3 linked regions of the Homo sapiens genome follow. The protein of the gene in region 1 purifies or fractionates together with the protein of each later gene. This does not show direct contact. Each region holds a gene or a part of one and is shown on either strand. Other genes may lie near its edges. The genes, in order: CEP128, CEP162 and LAMP1.

Evidence for each region.
Region 2: the proteins of CEP128 (region 1) and CEP162 purify together in Homo sapiens (affinity purification with western blotting; one large-scale study listed by BioGRID and IntAct). This does not show direct contact.
Region 3: the proteins of CEP128 (region 1) and LAMP1 fractionate together in Homo sapiens (co-fractionation; one large-scale study listed by BioGRID). This does not show direct contact.

Annotation. Positions count from the first base shown.
Region 1 is NC_000014.9:80,784,668-80,788,319, forward strand, and holds part of CEP128 (centrosomal protein of 128 kDa), read right to left. Parts: intron 879-3,652; coding exon 228-878; exon of another isoform or gene 1-227.
Region 2 is NC_000006.12:84,147,613-84,151,264, forward strand, and holds part of CEP162 (centrosomal protein of 162 kDa), read right to left. Parts: intron 2,092-3,652; coding exon 1,950-2,091; intron 1-1,949. UniProt on the Homo sapiens protein: Required to promote assembly of the transition zone in primary cilia. Acts by specifically recognizing and binding the axonemal microtubule.
Region 3 is NC_000013.11:113,314,094-113,317,745, forward strand, and holds part of LAMP1 (lysosome-associated membrane glycoprotein 1 precursor), read left to right. Parts: intron 1-3,652. UniProt on the Homo sapiens protein: Lysosomal membrane glycoprotein which plays an important role in lysosome biogenesis, lysosomal pH regulation, autophagy and cholesterol homeostasis.

The sequences.
Region 1 (3,652 bases):
CGTTCTTTATAAAGGGCTTCAATGCTCTGAAATAGGTGCTCCCAGGTGGCTGTTATAACTCATTTCAACCTGGCCGAACAGGCATGAATAAGCCTCTTTATTGTTGGTTTTATCTTCCCTTCAGTGCTTGGGAATACAGAATGATCTCTAAAAGTTTACGCTTTATTAACTTCATGAGCCACCAGAAAAATTCCTTCAGTATCATCAGGATAATTTAGCAGAGGTACCTTCAGAGTCCTGATATGATTCTCAGCCTCACTCTTTTCTTTCTTAAAGTGCTTCATAAGCTCCTGGATATTCTGTTCGTGTTTTGTTTTCACACTCTGCAATGATGATGTGAGATCTTTCAGCTCCCTCTGGTGCACATCTCGTTCCAGCTTTAACTGTGTGATGATTGTAGCTGTTTCTTCATCCCTGGATTTTGCCTGTGCAGTGAGGTCAGAAAGGTCCTTAAGCACTGCTTTCTTGGCTCTCTCTTCCTCAGCCAATTTATTAGCAAGATCTGCTCGGATGGCACTCAGGTCCTTGATGGACTCTTGCATCTCAAGAAGTTTAGCTTTGTCCTGGGCCTGGCTCTTCTTGAGCTCTGCAATTTCTTCCTCCAAGTGAGCTTTCTCAACTTTCATCTGGCTTTGGATCTTACTCTGCTTTTTCAATTCGCTCTCCAGTCTATGGATGGTATCCAGGGAATTCTTAACTTCCAATTCAAGGTCAGCTTGATGAGACTTAATATCACGTAATTTCTCCTCCTTGGAGTGAAGCTCCTCCTCCTGAAGGGCACGCTTTGTTAGGACATCATTCAATTCCTTTCGAAGATTCTCTATTTGTTGTAATGCTGCATACAGCTGGGTTTTCAATTCATCCTTTTCTTTTAAAATCTATCAGGTTAAGAACATGAAGCAAAAGAAAAAAATAAAAGTTACTGTAAAATTCACCATAGACTCTGCCAGTCAGCAAAACAATGTTTAACCCACAAGGAAAAAAAAAATTCATCAAATAATTTTTGTATTTTTCCCATTTTTTAATAAAAATACTTTTAGGCCAGAAAGGTGGGGGGGAATATATAATTGTCCTGAAATAGCAACACACTGAAATATGTATTTCAAATTTTCATCACCAAAACTTATTTCAATCCATGGTCACAAATAATTATTTAAATGTAAGATAAAATTGAGCAAACAAATGGGGAAAGCAAAGACTCTCATTATAAAGAAAACTTACTACAGGTTGAAATAATACACTATTACCTAAAATAATACTGATGTACATTCCAATGATACACTTTTAAAAAGGAGAAACCCCAAAACAGAGATGGAAAATAATATAGGGAAGCATGCAGATACAATACAAGAAAGTTTACGGTACATTCAGCCATTATTTTTAAAATATCAATGGTGACGAAAACTCACCAATATGCAACTGGGAGCCTGGAAGCCCACAAAGAAATGAGATTAAGTCAGGAAAGGTTGGGAAAGGGCTCAAGAGAAAAGTCAAGGGCCTAGAAGTCCATCATTCTATGCCAGCCTCTCTAAGATTTACATGGAAGGACAGAGGCCAAGGGTTAACTCTTCTGGCCTCTAATTCTCACCACCTAATCATTGCAAATAAAATAATGGGCAGCCAAGGGAGCCAAGATTGTTTTCTATACAACACTGGCACCAAAGATAATCTCCGTGAAACAGGAGGGAAAAAAAGGAACCAATTAAGACTCATTTCAGAATTACAAATAATGAGTTAAAATGCAAATATTTGCAAGACATTTCTACACTTCACATTTTATACTTCAGTGTAAAACAATTTATGACAAAAATTTAATGAGTCAATCACTCCAAAAAAAAGTTTCCCCAATCCTGCTCAGTTTTAACTGAAAGAAAGAAAGAGCACAAAGATAACATGAGAACTAACAAAAGGAGATGAATAAGCAGTTGAGCTCTGACCAGAAAGAAGTGAATTTGATTTTCAGTTCAATCACGGGCAATTCTATGGCCTCGGGGAAATCATTTCTCTTACTAGAGAAAATAATAATAGCTATTTCATAAGACTGTGATGAAGATTAGTGAGAAAGGGGAAACAAAAAGTTGGAGTAGAATTTAAGTTCGAGGAGGTATTAGGGTCTCAGGGAGGTGTTTATGCAAGGTAGTGATCAAAACTGTAAAAAGAGCCAGGCCCAGTGGCACACCCTATAATCCCAGCTATTTGGAAGGCTCAGGCGGGAAGATAGCTTTGGCTCAGGAGTTCAAGACCAGCCTGGGCAACATAGCAAGACCCCGTCTCTACTGTGAAAAGACGGGATAACTGAGGAGAAGGAACTCTGGAACACAGATGAAGGAGTTCACTTCCGAAAGAATGTAAGGTAGGAGAAATATAGATGAGCCTAAGGGTAGATGTATTATTTTTCTATTGCTTCATAACAATTTCCAACAGACTTAGTAGCTTAAAATACACATTTTTTATCTCACTGCTTCCAATAGGTTGAAAGGCCAAGCAAGGTATTCAGCTTAAGGTCTCCTAAGACTAAAATCAATGTATCAGCTGGCCAGGGCGCTTGTCTGGAGGTTCTGAGGAGAATCCATGTCCAAGCTCATTCAGGTTTCTGATACAACTTGTTTCCATACAGTTGTAGGACTTTGGGTCCCCATTTCCTTGCTAGCTTTTGGTCAGCGATTATTCTGAACTTCTAGAAGCCAACCTTGTTCCTTGGCTCATGGACTCTGCCATCTTCAAAGCTTGAACAGCTTGATGAATCCTTCCGAAGCTCCAACTCTCTCTGACGTCCCCTTCTCTCAATAGCCAGAAAAAAAAAAACCTTCTATTGAGGGCTCATGTGATAAGATTAGGCCCATCCAGATAATGTGATCACAGGAGTAATGTCTTATCATATTCATTGGTTCCAGAAATTAGTGTGACTTCTTTGGGGAGGGTCATTCTACTTACCAAACTGGAGAACACAAGAACTGATAGAATCAAATTTGGGCTGTAAAGATAGCATGGGAGGGACTGAGCGAGGGTAGGGACCTTCAATATAGTGATATATGTTTGAAGCAGATAACTTAGCCCCCTTGGCATGAGTTGAGAGACTTATAGGCAGTGCTGAGGATTAAAATCATATTTTCATAATGAAGTCATACCATGTAAAGTGTCTTTAATTATGAAATATTATATCTTCCTGAAGTTGGATTAAAAAGCAAAGATATTTCTTTTTCACACATAACAGTAAGTCCAGAGACAGGATGGTTCAAGAAGAATCCCTCAAAGCTCAGGCTCTGCTACTCTATAACTCTCCATCTTTTGCTGTCTTTGCAGTGTTCCAAGCTTCACATCAATTCCTGACAAGGGTGACAGCCAGAGGGCAGACAGTCACAGACCATGTGAGTCAAGTTTGGAATTTCTTTGGCAATACAGATACTAAAAACTAAGCTCTGTCGATCTGATTCTGGTTAATTGCTTGCCTAGTAGCCACAGCTTAAGATTCTGTCTAGGCATTTTCTCTGAGTCTGAAAATGTCAGTGTCTTTACTGTCATCTCAATACCCTGGACATACCCAGGGCCCTCAAATGAATAGCCTTTATCTTGAGGCAAATCAAAACAGTGGAATTGGGTTCTCTTTGTCTGGCCAGGATCTTTTTTTTTTTTTTTTTTTTTTCTGTTTCCT
Region 2 (3,652 bases), on another chromosome or scaffold:
TCATTATATATCAATAAAAGGGGGGGAAAATAAATATGAACATTTTTCATGACTAGAAAAAGTCCTTTTAAAATAAAGCTCTATAAAGTCTACACATTTGGAAAAAGGTAGACAATATTATCTTTATACTCTGTGGTTAAGTATGATAGTTTTTATTTAAGAACTATGGCTTAAATATAACATAAGCCTCATAATATCTGTGAAATAAATGTCAGTCTCATATCTTTAGGTAAACTGAAATATATGAACAGATACTTCCATCAAGAAACTAAGAGAAATTGGGAAAAATTTATCTTATCTCTAATGCTGTATTTTTAATGATCAGACTATGCTGATTTCTCTTTAACTCAATTTTACAATATTACATTTATAACGCTGGGAAAATAACATTTATGGCACTATGGCATCATGATACTACTTTTCCTACCTCTTCCAGACTATTCCTTAATACAAAATCACTTGATAGAATGCTTATAGTTGCCCTCTGACACCCTATTCCTATGGAGGATAAGGCCAGAGAGGTTCTCTGTAAGGCTGTATGGATTGTTACTTACGAAAGGCACTTTAAGTATTTTTCATTAACGTAGTCAAATAGTCCTTTTTTTTCTCAGCGATCTGAAGTTAAGTTACAGACTTCATTACATTTTGCCCCTAAATACTTCAAATGCCACTTTGGGAGGTCAAAGTGGGTGGATCACTTGAGGTCAGAAGTTCGAGACCAACCTGGCCAACATGGTGAAACCCCATCTCTACCAAAAATATAAAAATTAGTCAGGCATGGTGGCGTGCACCTGTAATCCCAGCTACTTGGAAGGCTGAGACAGAAGAATCGCTTGAACCTGGGAGGCAGAGGTTGCAGTGAGCTGAGACAGCCTGGGTGACAGAAGGAGACTGTCTCAAAGAAACAAAACCTTCAGATGCTTCAACATACATCTCTTTAGAATAAGGGCATTTCTCACAAAACCATAACATTTTATACCTAAGAAAATTTATAGTAATTTCTTAGTATCTAATAGCCAGTCCATATTCAAACTTCCCGAATTGAGGAATTTATTTTTAATTAAGATGGTATTAAATAATTACACTTGGTGAGATAATTCTTTCTTGATGTTTTTCTCCCTGACCTTCTTTCTTAAAATTGAAGCCTACAGACAAGATGAACACAATAAACATTCATATATTTTTCAACTTGATAACCCAAAAGGTGGCTGATTTGCCACCTTTTTCTTTTTCTTGGATATACCATTTGAAAGTAGATTGTAGATAAAAGTCCTATTTTAATGCTATTTTTATAAGTGACAAACAGTACAGAAGACAGGCCACATGGTAATGCTCATAGATATTCTAAGTAGATATACCTATTTTTCAAAAAGGAAGACACATTTATTTGAGGAAATGCTGATGAGTTGGCAGCATTCCCTATAATAATTCTTAGAAGACTATGCTCCATCAGAGCAAGAGCTGTGTATCTCTCTTTTCATTATTTTATTCCAGTGCCTGATTGTCTATTGACCTGAATCATTATTTGTTAATAAAAGGTCATGGGGCAGGAAGAATGCCTAAGGATAACTGTCAGCTGGGACTTGGGGACTCGGTTCAACATCCAAGTTCAAGTACTAGGGTCCTAATCATGTTAGACATATACCTCACCACCTGTGACAAATTTAGAGACTTATTTGAGAAGTATAGGGACAAACTGTAAAAATATTTATTTATATGGTGTAGTTTTAAAGTAGAAAAATTAAATATATAGTATTATCTTCTTTAAAAAAATTAAATATATAGTATTATCTTCTTTAAAAAAGAAATCAAGCCAATAATAGTTTCCCATTTCTATCACCAAGCTGAAAAAGTTAAAACATTTCCAAATAAAACAATGTTAACTTTAATCTCATTAAAGTCAAAACGAGTTTATTCAAGTCAAAAGATAAAACAGATTTGTCATCTACCTCTTGAGTTGCTATTTTACGATTTAGTTCAGCTACTTTGGAAGAAGAATTTTCTACTGCATTTTGGCAAAGGAGTTTCTCTATTTCTCTCTGATGAGATGCTTTGAGGGATGCAATGTGTGCTGCAGTATCTTCCTTGACCCTACAGAGCAAATGAAAGAAAACCACACATAAAAGTGGCTCTTCAACCTCTAATTCAGAGTTAGCACAAAAACAGTAGAAGAAACCTGGGAATTAAGCAAGGGGAAAATGGGCACCAATATTAACTGCACTGTGTTAGGTGCTTTATACATTACTACTGCCTATGAGTTCTTATGACCAATCCATGAGCTACTATTTACTGAATTTTATAAGGGCAAACTTGAGGAAATAGTGATATATCTCTACTTTACCCCAACCTGAGGCTACACTTTCTGAGGGAATCTAGGGTTCCAAAAGCAAAGCACTTGACATTTGATCTTTTAAGATAAACTCAGATTTCTTGCCCAGATGCTTCTTTGGAAAATCACAGCTGTTCCCTTTAGAATCTCCAATGCCTTGTAGGCAGCATTAACCAATTTTCAACCCATGCATGAGACTCCAGGGCTAGTTGCATATTGTGAGAATGAGACAATCTTTATGGTAATTCTCAGGACATATTATGCTTGTAATATGCAATTAATTAATTGGACTGTAAGTGTGAAAGACTATTCATTTGTCTCTGTGATAAAATTTATTCAGAGGCAGTTCAGTAAATGGTTAAAATTATAAATAAAGATTTGGTATATTTCCTACAGATAAACATTTTCTCTCTTATTGGAAAGACTTTGAAAATAACAGCATTTAACTTAAAGCATGTATTTTAGTAAACTGCTGTTGCTATATATTAATATGGTGCTTCCCAACTATAGACAAATTTATCCATTGCTTATTTCACCATATGAATATTTCTCCATGGAAACAGTGTGAGTAGGGTCCTAGAAAAAGCATAAAAACCTAAATTAAAGCACATATAACTGAATGATAGTAAAAAGTCTAAATATTGGACTAGAAAAGTTTATTCTTCACTTCTCAGGCCCAGACTTATCTAAGAAACAGATTGACAATATTAACAAATTTTAAATGATGTACAGGAAAATTAATTGGAAAACCTGAATTTTAAATTCTTTCCTGGAAAAAATGTGATTCTTCTTAAAGAGCTTCATGCTACTGTCATAATATTCAGGACTTAAGAAACAAGCTTTCCATTTGGTAGCAATATGACTGCCATATGGTAACAACATGACTCACTCACTGCCATGGCTGCCAGTCAATAAGCATTTGTTGGGTGTTTCCCATGCTCATTCTCCTCCTACAGCACATTGCTGTGGGGATGCAAAAGCAGCATAATCTTACACCAGTTCTCAAGGAACTACAAGGCTGTGTATGATTAATCCTTTCTTGGTACATATTAGTAAGTTATGTAGGAGTTGGGGGTAGGAGAAGGCAATTTCCTGGGAAGTTCCACGAAATGTTTTGTGAAGGTAGTACTTATAACAAGAATGAGGAAAAGGCATGAGGAAATGTGACAGATTAGGTAAGTAGAGTAGTATTAGAATAGTGATGAGACTTGAGATGCTAGGCAGAGAAATTTAGTCTTGATATTTAAGGAAGTTGAGAGTCACCGGAGAGCAGAGTGACCCAGGTATATGAGTATTTAAAGAATATTAATGATTTTTAAGCAA
Region 3 (3,652 bases), on another chromosome or scaffold:
GGAGATGCCCGTGTGCCTGGGGCGTGGCCTCCCGGAGGGAGTCAGTGTGGAGATGCCCGTGTGCCTGGGGCGTGGCCTACTAGAGGGAGTCAGTGTGGAGATGCCCGTGTGCCTGGGGCGTGGCCTCCTGGAGGGAACCAGTGCGGAGATGTCGGTGTGCCTGGGGCGTGGCCTCCCGGAGGGAGTCAGTGTGGAGATGTCGGTGTGCCTGGGGCGTGGCCTCCTGGAGGGAGCCAGTGCGGAGATGCCCGTGTGCCTGGGGCGGGGCCTCCTGGAGGGAACCAGCGTGGAGATGCCCATGTGCCTGGGGCGTGGCCTCCTAGAGGGAGTCAGTGTGGAGATGCCCGTGTGCCTGGGGCGTGGCCTCCTGGAGGGAACCAGTGTGGAGATGCCAGTGTGCCTGGGGCGTGGCCTCCTAGAGGGAGTCAGTGTGGAGATGCCCGTGTGCCTGGGGCGTGGCCTCCTGGAGGGAACCAGTGTGGAGATGTCGGTGTGCCTGGGGCGTGGCCTCCTAGAGGGAGTCAGTGTGGAGATGCCCGTGTGCCTGGGGCGTGGCCTCCTGGAGGGAACCAGTGTGGAGATGTCGGTGTGCCTGGGGCGTGGCCTCCTAGAGGGAGTCAGTGTGGAGATGCCCGTGTGCCTGGGGCGTGGCCTCCTGGAGGGAACCAGTGTGGAGATGTCGGTGTGCCTGGGGCGTGGCCTCCTAGAGGGAGTCAGTGTGGAGATGCCCATGTGCCTGGGGCGTGGCCTCCTGGAGGCAGCCAGTGTGGAGATGCCAGTGTGCCTGGGGCGTGGCCTCCTAGAGGGAGTCAGTGTGGAGATGCCCGTGTGCCTGGGGCATGGCCTCCTGGAGGGAACCAGTGTGGAGATGCCAGTGTGCCTGGGGCGTGGCCTCCTGAGGGAGTCAGTGTGGAGATGCCCGTGTGCCTGGGGCGTGGCCTCCTGGAGGGAACCAGTGTGGAGATGTCGGTGTGTCTGGGGTGTGGCCTCCTAGAGGGAACCAGTGTGGAGATGTCGGTGTGCCTGGGGCGTGGCCTCCTGGAGGGAGTCAGTGCGGAGATGCCCGTGTGCCTGGGGCGTGGCCTCCCGGAGGGAGTCAGTGTGGAGATGCCCGTGTGCCTGGGGCGTGGCCTCCTGGAGGGAGCCAGTGCGGAGATGCCAGTGTGCCTGGGGCGGGGCCTCCTGGAGGGAACCAGCGTGGAGATGCCGGTGTGCCTGGGGCGCGGCGTCCTGGAGGCTGGGCTTCCTGCCTGGGTGGCGCTTCACCAGAAAGCCTCATGTATCTTGTCTTTTTTTTTTTTTTTTTTTTTTTTTGAGAGGGAGTCTTGCTCTGTTGCCCAGGCTGGAGTGCGGTGGTGCCATCTCGGCTCACTGCAACCTCTGCCTCCCGGGTTCAAGCGATTCTCCTCCCTCAGCCTCCTGAGTAGCTGGGATTACAGGTGCACATCACCACGTCTGGTTAATTTTTATATTTTTAGTAGAGGGGGGCGTTGCACCATGTTGGCCAGGCTGGTCTTGAGCTCCTGACCTCCCAAAGTGCTGGGATTATAGGTGTGAGCCACCGTGCCCGGCCCATCTTGCCTTTCAATACATCATCTTATCTAAAAAAGCTCGGGGACCTCATAGATTTTATTTTAAAAGGAAATGAAGCACAAGCCACCTTTGAATGGACTTTCCTGTTGGTTTTGTACCTTCCTTCCTGAGTATCTTCAAAGTAGGGCACATGTGGCTGGGCACGGTGGCTCAGTCCTGTAATCCCAGCACTTTGGGAACTCGAGGTGGGTGGATCACCTCAGGTCAGGAATTCGAGACCAGCCTGGCCAACATGGCGAAAACCCGTCTCTACTAAAAATATAAAAATTAGTCGGGCGTGGTGGCAGGTGCCTGTAGTCCCCCCTACTCAGGAGGCTGAGGCAGGAGAATTGCTTGAACCCGAGAGGTGGAGGTTGCAGTGAGCTGAGATCATGCTACTGCACTCCAGCCCAGCTGACAGAGTGAGATTCCATCTCAAAAACAAAAAAACAAAGTAGGGCAGATGACTGTCACTCCAGAGGGTCTGAGTGCAGCTCTGCCTGAGGCTGGAGTCAGCCAGATATCCATCCAAACCGGATTTCCAGCCCAGGCCCATATGGGGTTAGCAGATCTACAGTGAGGCTCAGCCAGGCTTTTGGGTTTATGAGTTCACCGGGAGGAGTGGGGTGTCTTCGTCTTTTATCCTCAGGGTCTGATAGGTGCACGCTTGTTGAATGAATCAGAGGACTGCCTGACTCCTGTTAGGAGTTGAAAATGAAGGTCACCGTGTCTCATCTCCCACCCAATTTGGCATGATTTTTTTTTTTTTTTTTTGAGGCAGAGTCCCGCTCTGTCACCCCAGGCTGGAGTGCAGTGGCGTGATCTCTGCTCACTGCAAGCTCCGCCTCCTGGGTTCACGCCATTCTTCTGCCTCAGCCTCCCAAGTAGGTGGGACTGTAGGCGCCCGCCACCACGCCTGGCTAATTTTTGTATTTTTAGTAGAGACGGGGTTTCACCGTGTTAACCAGGATGGTCTTGATCTCCTGACCTCGTGATCCGCCCGCCTCGGCCTCCCAAAGTGCTGGGATTACAGGCGTGAGCCACCGTGCCCAGCTGCAGCATTTTTTTTTCATTCCTAGGAACAGAGTCTGACTCCTAGCTTAAATGGAAGGAATCGATGGTAAAACATTGGAGGTGGAGGTTGCAGTGAGCTGAGATGGCGCCGCTGCACTCTAGCCTGGGTGGCAGAGCAACTGAGACTCTGTCTCAAAAAAAAAAAAAAAGAACTACCATCAGAAAGGCGGAGAGGATGAGAGTCCCTCAGGACAGGTGAAAGGGGCAGGAGAAGGTCAGAGGCCTGACACACCCAACATTGTCACAAAAAACTGTAAGAGAGGCTGTGGGAGCTATGAGTCGGGAACCTGGGTGCAAACCAATCTCATCCTCACAGACACCCTTGAGGGTCTGAATTGCAGCTTGCAGGTTGATGTGAGTATCTGCTGTTGCCGGGAGAGGAGGAGGGGCCTTCAGAGCACATGAGCTTTGGAAAGGCCCGGCTGTGTGCTGCTCTCCGGAGGGTGCTGGAGGAGGTGTGACAGTGGACCCTCAGGTCTCCCCAGAGGCTCCTGTGCCACCATCTCCCCCCGGGCAGCGCAGGGCACTCTCCAGTGCGTTCCGTGATGAGCTCTCCGTCACTGTCCTCCGCCCTCAGCAGGAAAGACTTTGGTATTTAGTACGCATTCAGGGAAGGAGAGTGTGGGTTTGCGTTTGTAATTCAGGTAGAAGGACGAGGGCATTTTATCCACACTTATTTCTCAAGTTCCAGTTTTTTAAACTGGTGGTTAGACCTGATGATGTTTTATTTGTGTTTCCAGCTTCTTGTGACCACTCTACAGAAACAGGGTGGGAAATGAATGTGCCACATGGATCACAGGTGAAAAACAATTGTCAAAGCAGCGTAGGTTACACTTTTTCTGTGCGTCGTGTGGCCATCTAGACTAGAATTTGGACAAGACTGGCCGGTTTTGCACATTTAACTTTTGCCTGTTTAACCCTGGTCTGTAACATTTTATAAAGGAACCGTGAAGCTGCTTTTTTTTTTTTTTTTTTGAGACAGGGTCTCCCAGGCTGGAGTGCAGTG